4 separate regions of the Homo sapiens genome follow, and all the other regions are reported to be linked to region 3. The links are microRNA targets in miRTarBase. Many come from high-throughput screens and were not tested one by one. Region 3 holds a microRNA gene; each other region holds the end of a gene's coding sequence.

The links. Region 3 holds the annotated microRNA hsa-miR-603 (CACACACUGCAAUUACUUUUGC, at 2,237-2,258, shown strand). A microRNA usually pairs through its seed, bases 2 to 8, with sites in the 3' UTR of a target mRNA and lowers its output. Matches are read on the target gene's strand: a 7mer-m8 pairs with bases 2 to 8, a 7mer-A1 pairs with bases 2 to 7 and ends in A, and an 8mer does both.
Region 1: miRTarBase lists UGT2B4 as a target of hsa-miR-603. The part of its 3' UTR that is shown has no 7-base or 8-base seed match.
Region 2: miRTarBase lists MESD as a target of hsa-miR-603. Seed matches in the 3' UTR shown: 7mer-A1 at 3,255-3,261 and 7mer-A1 at 1,208-1,214.
Region 4: miRTarBase lists NUS1 as a target of hsa-miR-603. Seed matches in the 3' UTR shown: 7mer-m8 at 900-906 and 7mer-A1 at 1,855-1,861.

Annotation. Positions count from the first base shown.
Region 1 is chr4:69,476,864-69,480,920 of GRCh38, reverse strand. UGT2B4 (UDP glucuronosyltransferase family 2 member B4) reads left to right here. Exons shown (of 6, transcript NM_021139.3): 6 at 11-756. The coding sequence ends at 287. Among named protein-coding and RNA genes, the nearest start is that of UGT2B4, 17 kb to the left of the region's middle.
Region 2 is chr15:80,975,458-80,979,514 of GRCh38, forward strand. It overlaps MESD (mesoderm development LRP chaperone), which reads right to left. Exons shown (of 3, transcript NM_015154.3): 3 at 295-4,020. The coding sequence ends at 3,762. Among named protein-coding and RNA genes, the nearest start is that of MESD, 12 kb to the right of the region's middle. RefSeq lists silencers at 2,111-2,405, 3,271-3,565.
Region 3 is chr10:24,273,509-24,277,577 of GRCh38, forward strand. It overlaps MIR603 (microRNA 603), which reads left to right and starts at 2,177; the gene lies at 2,177-2,273. The region is part of intron 2 of KIAA1217; the gene reads left to right.
Region 4 is chr6:117,706,271-117,710,327 of GRCh38, forward strand. It overlaps NUS1 (NUS1 dehydrodolichyl diphosphate synthase subunit), which reads left to right. Exons shown (of 5, transcript NM_138459.5): 5 at 655-4,057. The coding sequence ends at 745. Among named protein-coding and RNA genes, the nearest start is that of NUS1, 33 kb to the left of the region's middle.

The DNA of each region.
Region 1 (4,057 bases), not on the chromosome of region 3:
TATCGTTTAGATATAAAGAGAATGCTATGAAATTATCAAGAATTCATCATGATCAACCAGTGAAGCCCCTTGATCGAGCAGTCTTCTGGATTGAATTTGTCATGCGCCATAAAGGAGCCAAGCACCTTCGGGTTGCAGCCCACGACCTCACCTGGTTCCAGTACCACTCTTTGGATGTGACTGGGTTCCTGCTGGCCTGTGTGGCAACTGTGATATTCATCATCACAAAATGTCTGTTTTGTGTCTGGAAGTTTGTTAGAACAGGAAAGAAGGGGAAAAGAGATTAATTACGTCTGAGGCTGGAAGCTGGGAAACCCAATAAATGAACTCCTTTAGTTTATTACAACAAGAAGACGTTGTGATACAAGAGATTCCTTTCTTCTTGTGACAAAACATCTTTCAAAACTTACCTTGTCAAGTCAAAATTTGTTTTAGTACCTGTTTAACCATTAGAAATATTTCATGTCAAGGAGGAAAACATTAGGGAAAACAAAAATGATATAAAGCCATATGAGGTTATATTGAAATGTATTGAGCTTATATTGAAATTTATTGTTCCAATTCACAGGTTACATGAAAAAAAATTTACTAAGCTTAACTACATGTCACACATTGTACATGGAAACAAGAACATTAAGAAGTCCACTGACAGTATCAGTACTGTTTTGCAAATACTCAGCATACTTTGGATCCATTTCATGCAGGATTGTGTTGTTTTAACTGTTGTTGAGGAAGCTAATAAATAATTAAATTGTATAGAAAGTCTCTTCCTCTTGATATTTTGAGATGATTAGTGCTGCTTGGCTTTTATTGTGCATCGTGCTTCAACGTCATTTTTTTTCCTAAAAGGTATGATAAAAATGCTTACCATTTTAGAGCTTAAGTCATTTCCCAGTGAAAAGTATGTGGAATTAGAAATATAGCAACTCCTACCTGGTTTCTACTACAAAATGAACTAATTTTACAATGCGTTTGGTTTTTTGAGCCAATTCTATTTTTCTGTTCATTTGAAAATATTCATCTTTTTTTATTCTTTGTTTTTTAGGTATTTCAATAGCTTTTGGGTGACAACTGGTTTTTGGTTACATGGATAAGCTCTTTAGTGGTGATTTTTCAGATTTTGGTGCACTCATTACTCAAGAAGTATACACTGTACCCAGTGTGTACTGTTTTATCCCTCACATCCCTCCTACCCTTCCCTCTGAGTTCCAAGAGTCCATTATATCATTCTTATGCCTCTATGTCCTAATAGCTTAGGTCCCCCTTATAAGTGAGAACATACATTGTTTGGTTTTATATTTCTGAATTACTTCACTTAGAATAATGGTCTCCAACTCCATCCAGGTTTATTTTGTCCATTTTGATGGCTGAGTAGTGTATATATATATATATAATATATGTGTGTGTATATATATATATTCCCCAACTAGTGGCTAAAGTAAATGTGATATTTATATATAATATATATTAGATATATATAATTATATATGTATGTGTATATATATATAATTATATATGTATGTGTATACAAACACACACACACACACACACACACACACACACATATATATATATATATATCTCACATTTTCTTTATCCACCCATTGACTGATGGGAATCTAGGCTGGTTCCACAGTTTTGCAATTGTGAATTGTGCTGCTATAAACATGTGTGTATATGGGTCTTTTTCATATAATGACTTATTTTCCTCTAGATAGATGTCCAGCAGTGGAATTGCTGGATCAAATGGCAGTTCTACTTTTAGTTATTTAAGGGATATCCATATTGTTTGCCATAGTGGTTGTACTAGCTTGCATTCCCACCAGCAGTGTAAATGTGTTCCCTTATTACTACCATGCCAACATCTATTATTTTTGGATTTTTAAACTATGGCCATTCACCATTTGTATATCTTCTTTTGTAAATTGTCTATTCATGTCCTTAAGTCACATTTTGAGGGATTATTTGTTTTTGTCTTGCTGATTTGTTTCAGCACTTTGTAGATTGTGGATATTAGTCTTTTGTGGGATGTGTAGTTTGTGAAGATTTTCTCTAACTCTGTGAGTTATCTGTTTACTTTGCTGATTATCTCTTTCGCTGTTCAGAAGCTGTTTAGTGTAATTGAGTTCCATCTATTTAACTTTGTTTTGGTTGCCTTTGCTTTTGGGTTCTTGGTCATGAAGTCTTTGCCTAAACAAATGTCTAGAACAGTTTTTATGATGCTATCTTCTACAATTTTTATACTTCCAGGTCTTAGATTTAATTATTTGATTCATCTTGAGTTGATCTTTGTATAAGGTGAGAGATGAGTATCCAATTTCATTCTTCTACATGTGGCTTGCCAATTATCCCAGCACCATTTGTTGAATAGGTTTTCCTTTCCCCATTTTATGTTTTTGTTTGCTTTGTCAAAGACTAGTTGGCTATAAGTATTTAGTTTTATTTCTGAATTCTCTATTCTGTTTCATTGGTCTACATGCCTGTTTTTATACCAGTACCATGCTGTTTTGTTAACTATAGCCTTGTAGTATAGTTTGAAGTCAGGTAATGTGACACTTCCAGATGTGTGTTTTTTTTGTTGTTGTTGTTTGTTTTTTTGCTTAGTCTTACTTGGGCTATGTGGACATCAAAGCTGAGAATCAAATAAAAACCTCAACCCCTATTAAAGCATCTGCAATAATAATAATAATAATAAAATAAATACTTACAAATATACTTAACCAAGAAGGTGAAAGTTCTCCACAAAGAAGACCACAAAACACTTCTGAAATAAATCATAGATGATGCAAACAAATGGAAACACATCCTGTGTTCATTTGTGGCTTGAATAAATATTGTGAAAAAGACCATACTACCAAAAGCAATCTATAAATTCAATGTAATTTCCATTAAAATACCATCATCTTTATTCACAGAACCAAAAAAAAATTCTAAATTTCTTGTGGGTTCTATTCTCATTTTTCACCTTTAATGACAAATGTTAAGTTCTTAATTTTTGGTTGTAATAATATAGGAATTTCATTATGAAGGGATTAAGTGTATTTTTAATCTTGCTAAACATACATGTACATATACATGTCCATTTTTTTAAAATAAGACACTGCATCATTTAGTTACCTAATAGATAGGTGGTAAAATTCAATGTGTTTATTGAAGACAGTTTGAAATAATAATTATATTCCACATACTATACTTCAAATAATCATCTCTAATTTTTCTCTTTTTCCACAGGGTCTTTTGATCCATTTCTTCTCTAAATATAAAATAGAAGCATGAAATCTTTTAGGATGACAAAAAGTGTACAAAGTATACAATGAGTTTATAAATTTTGTGGAAAATAGCTAAATCAAGCCATAAACCTTCTTTAATATACACATCAGGGAAGCACTTTATGATAAAAGTGGTCCAGATGGACAAAAACTTAGTTGTCTTTGCTGGTAAGAAGCCTTACTATTTACTAATTATCACACAAGTATTCTCCAGTCTAAGGAATGATTTAAATATAAATATTATATATATATATTTCACTACATATGTATATATATTTATATATGTATATATAAATCATGACTATATATATATATATATACACACACACACAGTATAACATTGATGCTAGAGAAATTATAGGAAAAGTTTATAACAGAATATTTCATACAAATCATCCAGGAACTGATACATATATAAAGAAACACAGAACTAATATAGTGCCAAAGGTTAATAATGTTGTTTTATCATGCTTATAAACCTCTGCTTATTTACATTAAACCTATCCTACAACACATGTAACAATAGATTGGTTTCCATTGTTTAGTGACAACTACAAAACAACAACCAAAAAAGACAAACAAATCTAATAAAAAGTTGATGAAAGTATGAATAGGTAATTCAAAGTAAAAATGGCAAATAACATATCAAAGATGATAAAGTTACTGATGCTCAATTAAATAGAAATAATGCCAATAAATTATTGCTATAAAAACCTCAAATAGAAGAGTCAGCATAACATGGTGGTTAAGAGCTGGCACTCTGAATTCAGGTCACCTTGATTCAAATC
Region 2 (4,057 bases), not on the chromosome of region 3:
GCTCTTGTCCAAGCATAAAGGCGGACACTGTGGGTGCAGAAGGTGGATATTATGTATCTTGTCAGTATACAAACACTATTAAACAATAATCAGGGACACAGGAAAAAGTTTGTGAGTTCCTTTCCCTTGTTCAGTGGTTAATGCATACTAAGTTGGTTTAATTTAAAAAAAAAAAAGAGGTTTAACAGTATAAGGGAAACCACCAGAAGTACAAAAGCCACAGTATCACCATCAAAACCAGAAAGCCTGAGGATGAAGAAGGAAAGATGTGTATATCTGATACAGGTTTCATAATTGATAGTCAAAAGATATCATCCAAATTTATTAGATCACTAGATATTAAAACAAACAAGACAAAAAGGAAGACAAATTCATTAAAAACAGGACATTTCTCCCAGCTATTTGGGAGGCTGTGGTGGGAAGATCAATTGAGCCGGTAGGTAGAGACTTCAGTGAGCCGTGATCCTACTGCACTCTAGTGAGGGCAACAGAGTGAGACCCTGTCTCAAAAACAAAAACAAATGACATTTCTCTTAAAAAATTTTTGTTTCGTTTTTTTGAGACAGAGTCTCATCCCGTCATCCAGGCTGGAGTGCAGTGGCCTGATCTTGGCTCACTGCAACCTCCGCCTCCCGGGTTCAAGCCATTCTCCTGCCTCAGCCACCTGAGTAGCTGGGATTACAGGCCCGCACCACCACACTCGGCTAATTTTTAGTAGAGACAGGGCTTCACCATGTTGGCCAGGCTGGTCTCAAACTCCTGACCTCAACTGATCCACCCACCTCGGCCTCCCAAAGTACTGGGATTACAGGCGTGAGCCACTGTACCCAGCCCAACATTTCTTTTGCTCATGAATCTGCAGACTGGGCAGACTGTTTCTCAGCTCAGCTTATGTTGGCTCCCCTCAGTGTCAACTAGGATTGCTTGAAGGCTGGGGCTGGAAATGTTTAAATCTTATCCACATGTCTGTGCCTGGGCTGGGAAGACTCATGCAGCTGGGGTTGGAGCAGGTGGGCCTCCTGGGTATCCCTCTCTCTACGTGAAACACTGTACGCAGCCTCTCCAGTATGGTGGCTTCAGGGTAGCCAATTAAGATATGGTTTTACAATCTATTAAACTGGTAAATGTGATGCCCAAGGCTGGCAAGGATAGATCTATTGTTGGCAAGGGTAAGCTGACTAAACCACTTGGGAGGGCAATTTGGCAATACACACCAAAATGTTAAATTCCGTTTGCTCTAATAATTCTACTGCTAGGAATTTACCTTTCAGATATAAACAAAAGTGTACCGAAATATTTTGTATGAAAATGTCCACTGCAGCACTGAATATACCAGCAAAAAATCTGAACACTCAAGTGTCCATCAGCAGGGACTATGCAGTGAAACAGTGGTTCAAACCTCACCATCACCCTGCTGATGTAGGACACCTTCAGCTATGGCCTGCACTACTGAAGCACCTCCCAGCTCACGGCTCACACCTGCTGGGGTCCTCTTCTGATCACTTCTCCTGTGCAACCAGTGCAACCTGGACTGCCTTTCACACCCACCCCATCACAATTAAGATCCACCAGGGCGTCCCAAACTCCTACCAAACTCCATGTGCTACGCTCCTCCAACCTGGGCCTGCACTGGGCCCCAGCCTCCCCGCTGGCCTTCCTGCTGCCTCTCCCTCTGCCACTTCTAGCCACAGGGTCTTAGCTCAGACTGTTTCCTCTGCCTGCCTTACTCTATTTCTCCTCTCCTCCTCTTGCCCTCAGAGAAGGCCTCTGGTTTTCTTAACCTGGTCAGGGAAGATTCTACCTCCCCCTACCCTGCCCCTTTCATACTTCTAACAGCTGCCATTTTACTTTGTACATTACTGACATTTGTCTTCCCCCACCGAATCATTGAGTTTTACGATAGCAGAGGCTGTATCTACACCGTCCTGGCACCTTGTAGTACCTAGTACATAACAGACACACAGAAACTACTGGGTGAAGTGGGGGCACACTGCACAGGAAACAATGAGACAGATCTGCACATTCTGACATGGGAAGGCTCCTAAGTGGAAACAGAAGGTACAGGGCGGAGTGAAAGCTTTGCTACCTTTTGCTTAATTAAAGCAATTATCTCATCAAAACAGCTGCTTTATACTGGGCCATTATGGCTATGCAGGACAGTAACCCCATCAAACTGCCCTGAGTACAACAGAAAAAGCCCACAGACAGGGCTTGGTTCAGCCACGGCATGATTCAGGGACTCGTTTATGCCACCAGGGTGTGGCGCTCTCTCCCCACTGTCAGACAGTTCTCTTCTCCAAGGGCGGGGCCTACAACAGCTCCCGCTCCAGGTTCAAGATGCAGGAGGAACAAGAAAAGCCTCTTTCAGGGCCTAGTACCCTAGTACGGTAGATCACACAGGCCTCACCCTGGAGAGGGCATGGCCTGGAGGGTGGGGGGACTGCAGGGCAAATGTCCCATCCAAAGCAGAGAACTGAGAATGCAGAGGGTGTGGTTCTTTCGAGGGAAATGTGAGCAGCTACCAAATTAAGGGGAAACAGATGCTGTGAGGCCAAAACAAACATACATCACCATAAGTACATTTACATAAGTAAATGTACTTTTTTTTGGTGGATGGGCAGGGAGGGGGATGTGGGGGCACAAATTGTTAACAGCAGCTTCCACTGGGACAAGCTACCACCGGCGGCAAGAGAGGGATACACTTTTCACTTTGTACCATTCTTTAACACTGACATTTTCTAACCATGTAATGTGCTACTTTTAATTTATTAAAATCACAATTGAGGGTTTTTCCCAAAGAATTTTAGTTCTTAGAAATGACATCTGTATATAAATGTTCTAACTCTTATTCACAGTAGGCTCTAACATGAACGGCAAAATCAGACATCAACAGTAGCACATCATGTTACTCTATACGAAAGCACAGATTTAGGCACTTTATCAAAGAAAAATGTTTAGAAACAAATGAGGTTATTGAGTCGTCTGTCACACTCTGCAAAGGACTCTGATTCCCTACTTAAATCCTTTAAAACTGTCACATTAAATGGAACATATAACCCCTCGACACCAGCAGTACTCTTTCCTAAATAAGGAAACAAAACAGAACCCCTAACTTTACAGACCACATAAAACCTGACAGACACCAAGAGTTCTCTTACTGATGAGTAAGATTCAAGTCAAAGAAATTCAAAACTACTTAGGATTTCAAGTGACATATTTTCTATTCTCCGCATTTCCTGCATAGATTTTGGATTTACACACCCTGGCTTCCTGGCTACAGACATCTGAGTTCACAAAGCATATTTTACCTTTAACATAATGAAAATGATGTATATGGCATGAAGAGTTTACTCAATTAAGTCAAGAGTTTTAAAGTCTTCTCTGATCAGAATTTGCTATCTGATCAGAGCAGGCCACCCAATCACAGCAGGTGCTTGGAGGGGAGTGGAATCTCAGTAGAGTTGATGACTCACCAAGTGTAAATGGGAAAAAGCAACACAGTCACATTTCCATGTAAGGAGATTTTATAGTAAACATGAATTTGTCAGTGTCCAGTATTAATTAGAAAACATCTGTCTTCTTACTTGAAGCCTATTAAGCAGTAATTCTTTGACCACAAACTGGTCATGTGGCAGACCCTTTCTAGAAGACACTAGAATGTCATCCGGTGTGCAGTTGCCTGAGACCACTCCCACCCCAGGAGCTGGGCAAAGAGCTCTCCACGTCCACCTGTCCCCCCACAGCGCGTCACTGCTGCCCCATCACAGGTCTTCTCTTTTATTCCCAGCTCGATTTTCTTCCTTGGAAGACCGAGATTTCAGATCTCCTTCCTTCTTTTTTTTGCCCTTGTCTTGCTTTGTTTTATTTTTCTCTTTGCTTCCTCCTCCTTTGCCGGGGTACACCTGGCCCTCCAGAGTTACATCAGCACACCTGTCTTGACCGACCAAAAAGTCCTTGATCTCCCAGGCGTAGCTCCCATCGCGAAGCATGAAGATAGCACGGTCTGATCCCACAATGAACCTTGGGCAGAGAGATGCAATCAGTCAGCCAGCACGTA
Region 3 (4,069 bases):
TTGGCTTACCTCTATGCATAACTGGCCCACGTCACATCTTTAATTAGAAGTCCAAGTTATTGGCTGGACGCCATGGCTCATGCCTGTAATCCAAGCACTTTGGGAGGCCAAGGTGGGTGGATCACCTGAGGTCAGGAGTTCGAGACCAGCCTGGCCAACATAGTGAAACCCTGTCTCTACTAAAAATGCAAATATCAGCCGGGTGTGGTGGCACATGCCTGTAATCACAGCTACTCGGGAGGCTTGAGGCTGGAGAATCGCCTGAGCACACGAGATGGAGGTTGCAGTGAGCCGAGATCGTGCCACTGTGTTCTAGCCTGGGCGACAGAACAAGACTCTGTCTCAAAAAAAAAAAAAAAGTCCAAGTTACTGTTGCAGGGATTGGGACATCTTGCCTTTCTCAAGTTGAGCAATATTCCCAAATATAAAAATGTAGGATCTTAGTCCAATCAGAGCAGATATTTGGTGTAGGGCATTTTCTAATGTAGTACCAATAAATTAGACGCATACCTCAACCAAAAAACAGCCCATATCCAGTAAGTAATAAGGCAATGATTTACATTTCACATATTACCAGAGTAATGACTAATAGCATACATGTATAAACTGAAAAGTGACTGATGCTTATTTTCAGATGGGTCCAAATTTATTGGATAATTATGGAGAATAATGTATGTTTTCTGAGAGTTGGTAGTAAGAAAATATTGCCATTGCTGGCCAGGCACAATGGCTCACACCTATAATCCCAGCATTTTGGGAGACTTGAGGTCAGGAGTTCATGACCAGCCACCTCAGCCTCCCAAGTAACTAGAACTACTGGTGCATGCCACCAAGTCCAGCTAATTTTTTTTTTTTTTTGAGACGGAATATTGCTCTGTCACCCAGATTGGCTGTGTTCTCCATTCTAAGTCCAGTGGTTAGAAATTGTCAAGTTCTCACATCTGCAAAAAAAGTAAAAAAGATGAACCTGCTACATCTAAATATACTTTGTTGTCTTCCTACAAGTCCTATTTTACATACTTATGGCATTTTTACTGCAGTTTGAAAATACAGTCAATTCTTGTTATTCACAGTATTGATGTTCTATAAACTTGCCCTAAATACTGCATTAGTGAGTCCTGAATTTATTAGTTAATACTGAATTTCCTAGGGGAAATACAGGGTTAGGTTCCTGTGAGTCTTTGGTTACCTTTTTATCAACCAATCAACAAAAATCCTTATTTTACCTGTGTTTTTGTTTGAAGACACCTTTTAAAATATATATTATTGATTCATTAGCATTGAACTAAGCTTATCTAATGCACTTATTTTTTGTGTAAGGTGTATCACAGCCTTCTTGAGCCTAGGAATGCCAAATAGTACTTCCACACCATACTTAAGGGCCATTTCATTTTATTTCTTATTTTTAAAATTTATTCTCTTTTCTTATTTAAAGAAAAAATTTGTAGATGCCGGGTCTCGCCCTCTTGACCAGGCTGGAGTGCAGTGACACAATCACAACTCACTGGAGCCTCAAACTCCTGGGCTCAAGTGATCTTCCCACCTCAGCCTCCCAAATATCTGGGACTACAGGCACACGCCACCATGCCCAGCTAATTTTTTAATTTTATTTTTTTGTAGAGGCAGGGTCTGGCTATGTTTTTGAGGTCTTAATTCCCCAATGAACATGACTAGTATATTCCAGGCTGGTCTTGAACTCCTGTCACAAAGCAATTCTCTTGCCTTAGCCTCCCAAAGTGCTGGGATTTCAGGCATGAGCCACTGCACCTGGCTTGGACCATTTTAAATAGTGAAGTCACTCACACACACATACACGCATGCAGGTGCACACACAGACACAAAAAGACACAAAAATGCGAAACTTGTGGCACTAAAAAGACTGTGGAAAGGGTGCTTCCTTACAGTATGAAAACTGAAACAAAAAAGCAGAGTGTTGTTTAGTTAGACGCCACCTGGGAACGTGCTTGTTGGGAAACTCCAGTTGTCCACTGTCCTGCCATGTCTATGATGACTGCAAACATTTGGGAGTATTAATTTGAGGGTCACAAACAGATTTTAGGTGATGGGCATATTTACAAATACAGAATCTGCTAGTAATGAGGACTGACTGTATAATGCTTTAGTAGTCTCAAGTATGTTTTTTTTCTCATTAAGCCTTTGCTTAAGATGCAGGCAAGATTGATGCTGTTGGTTTGGTGCAAAAGTAATTGCAGTGCTTCCCATTTAAAAGTAATGGCACACACTGCAATTACTTTTGCTCCAACTTAATACTTGGCTTTATTGACTTTTAGCATCAGTGCAGTTTGGTTAATGATAAAATTTTCCAAAGCAGTGTCTCATCTGCAGGAGCAAACTATAGCAAGGGCCCTGGCCATCAGTTCTCCCTTCTGGTCCTGATATTCCTTTTTAAACTGTCTTTCCATACCCCTCCCTCCAGTGGGCTTGGCGATGTTGCATTAAATAGCAAAGAGAAGGAAACTCCTCCCCAGTCCTCACTGACCATTTCTTTTTCCACTCAGTCCTGCTCAGAATGTAGAAGAGAAGTTGAATTTAATTCATAAATTCAGCAGCTTGAGGACTGTCAGTTTTGTCGTTATTTAGTGAAATAGTAATTGAATTGGGCTACAAGGTCATTGGAATCTGCTGTTTCATTTCATATCATTTTACGTGTTATTATTCTAATAAGAATACAAATGGAGTTTGATGCCATTTGCTGATCATCCATCTTATTGATGCCATTGAACAGAACGCAGAAACACAAAGGGATTTATAAGGCATTTCAGTTTTGATGTCCTTTGAAAAATGAAAGTCTTTTCAGAAATGCAAAAGACAAAATGACTTAGAATTCCATCTCGTTCTGCCCGGTTTGAGGGCATCCCTTCCTATTCCTTAGATAGCTGTTAATAAGAGTCCTGAGGAAAACTGGGTTTGAATTTAAAAACAAAAAATTTTTAAGAGACAGGGTCTCGCTTTGTCACCCAGGCTGGAGTGCAGTGGCACAATCATAGCCCCTGTAACCTTGAAGTCCTGGACTCAAGTGATGCTCCCACCTCAGCCTCCCTAGTAGCTGGAACTACTGGCACATGCCATCAAGTCCAGCTTTTTTTTTTTTTTTTTCTGAGATGGAATCTCACTTTGTCACCGAGGCCGTAGTGCAGTGGCGCGATCTCGGCTCACAGCAACCTCTGTCTCTCAAGTTCAAGTGATTGTCCTGCCTCAGCCTCCTGAGTAGCTGGGACTACAAGCATGTGCTACTACGCCCAGCTAATTTTTGTATTTTTAGTAGAGACAGGGTTTCACCATATTGGCCAGGCTGGTCTGGAACTCCTGACCTTGTGATCCGTCCGCCTCAGCCTCTCAAAGTGCTGGGATTACAGGCATGAGCCACCACACCCAGCCAAGTCCAGCTAATTAAAAAAAAAATAAAAATCGTAGAGATGGGGTCTCCCCGTGTTGCCCAAGCTGGTGTCAAATTCCTGACCTCAAGCAATCCTCCCACCTCGGCCTCCCAAAGCTCTATGATTATAGATGTGAGCTGCCATGCCTGGCCTTAAATTTTTCAAAAGCTTTTAAACCAATCTTAAAATGTTTTATCCTCTTAGAATCATGTCCCTAGTTTTATAGCTTGGAAATTCTTGCTCTTTTCAAATTGCTCTTTAACTCTGGCCTGATTGGAAGGTGGCAGCTTTTCAAATACAGGTCATGGCAGCGCTCAACCTGGATTCCTCAGTTGCAGAAGACTGCTTTTGCTAGACTGCTGAATTTACTTCCAACTTTTCAGATGTTTCTGAGGTTGACCCTGGTGTGGTTCCCACTCAAAGTGGAGCAAGCAGGTGGGTGGCAGGTCTCTTCTTAGCGGCTTCCTAGAGGGAAGCCTCGTGAGTGGGATGGGGGACAGGTTGCCCTGGGGGAGCCCAGGAATGGGGAGACAAGGCCACCTGCTATGCAGATGATATAGTTTGGCTGTGTACCCACCCACTTCTCATCTTGAATTGTAGTTCCCATAATCCCCACATGTTGTGGGAGGAACCTGGTGGGAGGTAATTGAATCATGGGGGCGGTTTTCCCC
Region 4 (4,057 bases), not on the chromosome of region 3:
TTCTAGGTTGCTCACAACATGGCTACAATATTTCATCATGTTTGGATGCTGTGTGGCTCTGCCCAACATTAAGCATGGCTTTCCTAAACTAAGTAATATTGGCTTTACTCTGACCAAGGAGAAATTCTTTAATGGATTTAAATGAGATCCTTTATACATAGATCTCTAGCTTTGCATTAATCTGAGCTTACGCTTTAACAAGTTATGAATCTCTCATTACTAGTTGCTTTTCTTGTGGAAAAAGAGGCATATTAATTTTTTAGTTGATGATGACATTGTGTGTCCTTGTCATCTCATTGTCCACAATGAGCTGAACAATCTTAGTAGAATTGTTTGGCATATTCTGCTTATAATTTACCCTCAGAGCAGAGGGAATAGCTATCTTCAATGAACACTCGTCAATAAACAGTGAGTGCCACTACCCCTCGGTGCCTCAGAGGCTCTCTGCTATTTCCCAGTCAGTTCTGTCAGGGCCCCACCCTTTCAGTCTACATATTATGATTAAGACATTTTCCGTGCCTGTCATGGTGCTGTCTGGTGGAGGATAATTTGGTGTATTCTATTCTTAACTTCTTTTTGGTCCTTATCTTCTGGTTCCCCCCTACATTACAGTGTATATCTAATTGCTTTTCTCCCCCCGTGTTTTCTTTTCAGCTCTTTGCCTTCCCACCTAAACATCAGTTATGAGGACTTTTTCTCTGCCCTTCGTCAATATGCAGCCTGTGAACAGCGTCTGGGAAAGTAGTGGTCATTGGTTGCATAATTTGATTTGAGGCTTGTGGAGGAAAGGAACCAAGTGACTCTGATGTTTACAAAGCACCTATGAAACCCTGTACACACCTAGTTCATAATCCTCATAATTTATCAACAAACACAAAAAAGTGTCTTACTTGAGAGTGAGTGTGTGTGTGTGCGTGTGCACGTGCACACATGTGCACGTTTGTATGTATGGAAATAAACTTATAAATGGGGACGTATTGGAGAAGGAAATACATAGACCTACAACTTTGAGCAAATAGCAGTGATGTTTTAGGAACTGAAATGTCACACTTAAAGTCTTCAGCCCAGCTACTTCCCTATTTTTGTGGGGAGAAGAGGGCCTGATTAGAACTGTTCTGGTTGTGTTTGGCGGGAGGGGAATAATTTTTGTTCAGTCCTTCTTAGTGACCAAACTTTAATTTTTAAGAATAATATATTGACTTACTGAACTGAAGCATTCTGAGTTGAAAGGAGCTCCAGAGGAGTGGAGTTCTGTGTTGCTCACATGTTAAAATCTTGCTCACCTTCAGAGCAGAGGGAATACCTATCTTCAGATATCCGTCCATTTTCATCTCTTAATTGTAGTCAAAAGTATGACTTGAGAGTGTTGCTCTGGTATTCTGGGTTCTGAAGTCTGGTATTCTGGTATTCTGGGTTCAAAAGTATGACTTGAGAGTGTTGCTCTGGTATTCTGAGAGTTGCTCTGTATTCTGGGTTCTGAAGATTATTTGAAAAATAACTCCTACTACATTGAAATGCAGACTTAAAAATTTAAACATTGGATTAGGCAGTCAAAAAAACCAAGCAAGCATAAAAGGTCAATAAGTTGTAATCTTGATAGTAAAGGTGGAAAACTTATTATAAATGGAAAGAAAGTTTTATTTCCTTTTTTGTTTGATGGGCAGTATGCCATATTATACCCAAAGTTCTTTTAAAAAATATTTCCATCAACCATTTTTATTTAAAATAAACATTTGAGGGAAGTTACCAAGGCAGCTTTTTTCCTCAAAAGTAACCTGTTCCTCTTTGGAATAGCACATTTTAGGGGCATGGTTAATACCTGAGATTTTTACTCAGTAAATCCTGATGGTTACTGTGTGTAAAATATCTTTAAGTAGGATTGAAGGCCTCTGTGGGGGAATAAAATATTACCAAAGTCTATAAAAATAAATTTTACATGTTCTCTTTTATGACAGAGAGCAGCACTGGTTCTGTTATTTTTAAAATGAATAATTGATTTCTTGATAGGTGTTTAATATTTCTTCCCTCACTGCTGATTCTTAGATAGAAACCATTCTTTATATTTGATAGACTGCTTTCAGAAAACCCTTATCAACAAGTGTACAATACTTATCTAAAACTATACATTTAGAATGGAGCAGTTTAATACTAGATCTCAGAAGTTTTGAAAAATAGCAAAGAAGACTGGATTTGGAAAGCATGGTCTACAATTGGTTGTTAAATTCTGAAGCTATGAAGAATAAATGTTTCAACTTTGGATTATGAAACCCCATTTATGATTTTTTAAATACACTTGAAATAAAAATGATTAAACTAAATTTTGGTCCAGTGACATTACTTTGCACTGCATAATCCATTATACGTTGTACGACTTTTTTTTTTTGTTTTAATTTATTACTGAGAGTTTTGTGTGAAGCTACAGCATATCTAACCAGAGAATTTCTGATTCCTTATACTGTGATTATATTATATTGAGGCATTTGTAGTGCAGCTGAAGACTGAATTTATGCCTTTTGTAAACATGATAGGTATAAATGTCTTATAAACATTCTGGAGTATGTATAGCTTTAATGAATGAAATTTAATGGACCTGATTAAAATGAAGGGATTTAATCGTTGTTAAAGTTAAGTTAGTCAAATAAATTACCTACTGGAATATAGCCCAAGCCAGTAAAGGTTTAATATTTGCATTTTCGTGCTTTTATTTTCTCCTTCCATTCATAAGTATATACTTGAAAGTACATCTGTAGCCTATGATTTGAGTCTCTTGAAGTTCTAGGAAGAGGCAAACTACAAACTACTAGGATTCTGATTTCAGATGTAGTCATTCCAGAACCTTCTCTTTATGAGTTCACCTGCTAGTACAATCTCCACAACTTGAATGGCATTGGTTGTTCTGTAATTCCTGCCAAAAGCATCACAAGTTGTACATCATCAAGGCTCCCTTTGCACTCCCAAGAAGAACTGGTAATTTTAAACAAAAGTATGTGTCTTTATTTGTATTGGAAAATACTGTCTTTAAATTGTTTCTTGTTGACACTCCCCACAATGGAAAAATTACCGAATTAAACCTGTTTTATGGATGGCAGCTTGGAGCATAGCAAGAAGTTGGAGGATTTGAATTCCATTCCCAGTTCTCATTGTGTTTTGTTTCTTAAAACTATAATAATCGGTTACTGTTATAAAGTTTAAAAGGTGGTTTTAATGTGAATAGCAAATTCTGGTATATCGTGACTAACGCTTAAGAATGCCTGTCTTTGAGAGGAAGGTGTTATAATATTAATGAACAGTGCCAAATACACTGTGCATATCTGCAATTTAATCTTTGAATGTATGTTACTGGATTAGCTCCCTCCTCCTGTGTGATGGTACCATGCATAGAGTCAATCAAATCCTTGTGATGTTTTGTATGGACTTTGACAATATGTAAATAATGTGTAAAGCCAGTTTTTATGATTAAGGAATCAAATTTATTGAATTTTATTATTGAAAGTTGAAACTTAACATGTATGAACAAAAACCAATAAAAGAATATACTCTTTTCATTGACTATAGTATTATGTGAATGCTACATTTGTTCTGAACACTTAGGGGCTGCAAAAATGTAATAAGAAATGCATATGACTAGATAGCAATAGTGTTTTTTTTAGATGGTATGCTCTTGATTGAAATATATTCTCACTTTTACCAGGTTAAACATTTGGAATCTTATAATGTTACTTGCTTTTTGATAGATAATAGTGAAATAAATTCAGCTTTGCCATTGCTGGAGTTGTCAAAATTCCACAGTAATTAAAATTTGAATTTTTACCGAATATGAAATTTCCAAATTAAAAACGTATATGTGTACTCTTTTAAAAAGGAATTTGATAGTTCTTGTCAAATGAGAAAATTTAAAGGTAAGAGTTATGGTTTGTCTTATGCTGCATAGACTATTCACCTCCTAACTTGAAGGTCTAATCATAAGACAATTGTTTTTTTGTGCATAGTTTTCATCTAAAATTAAGTTTACCAAAGGCAAATAACTGCTTACTAGGAACTTCCTTTAGCAAAAATT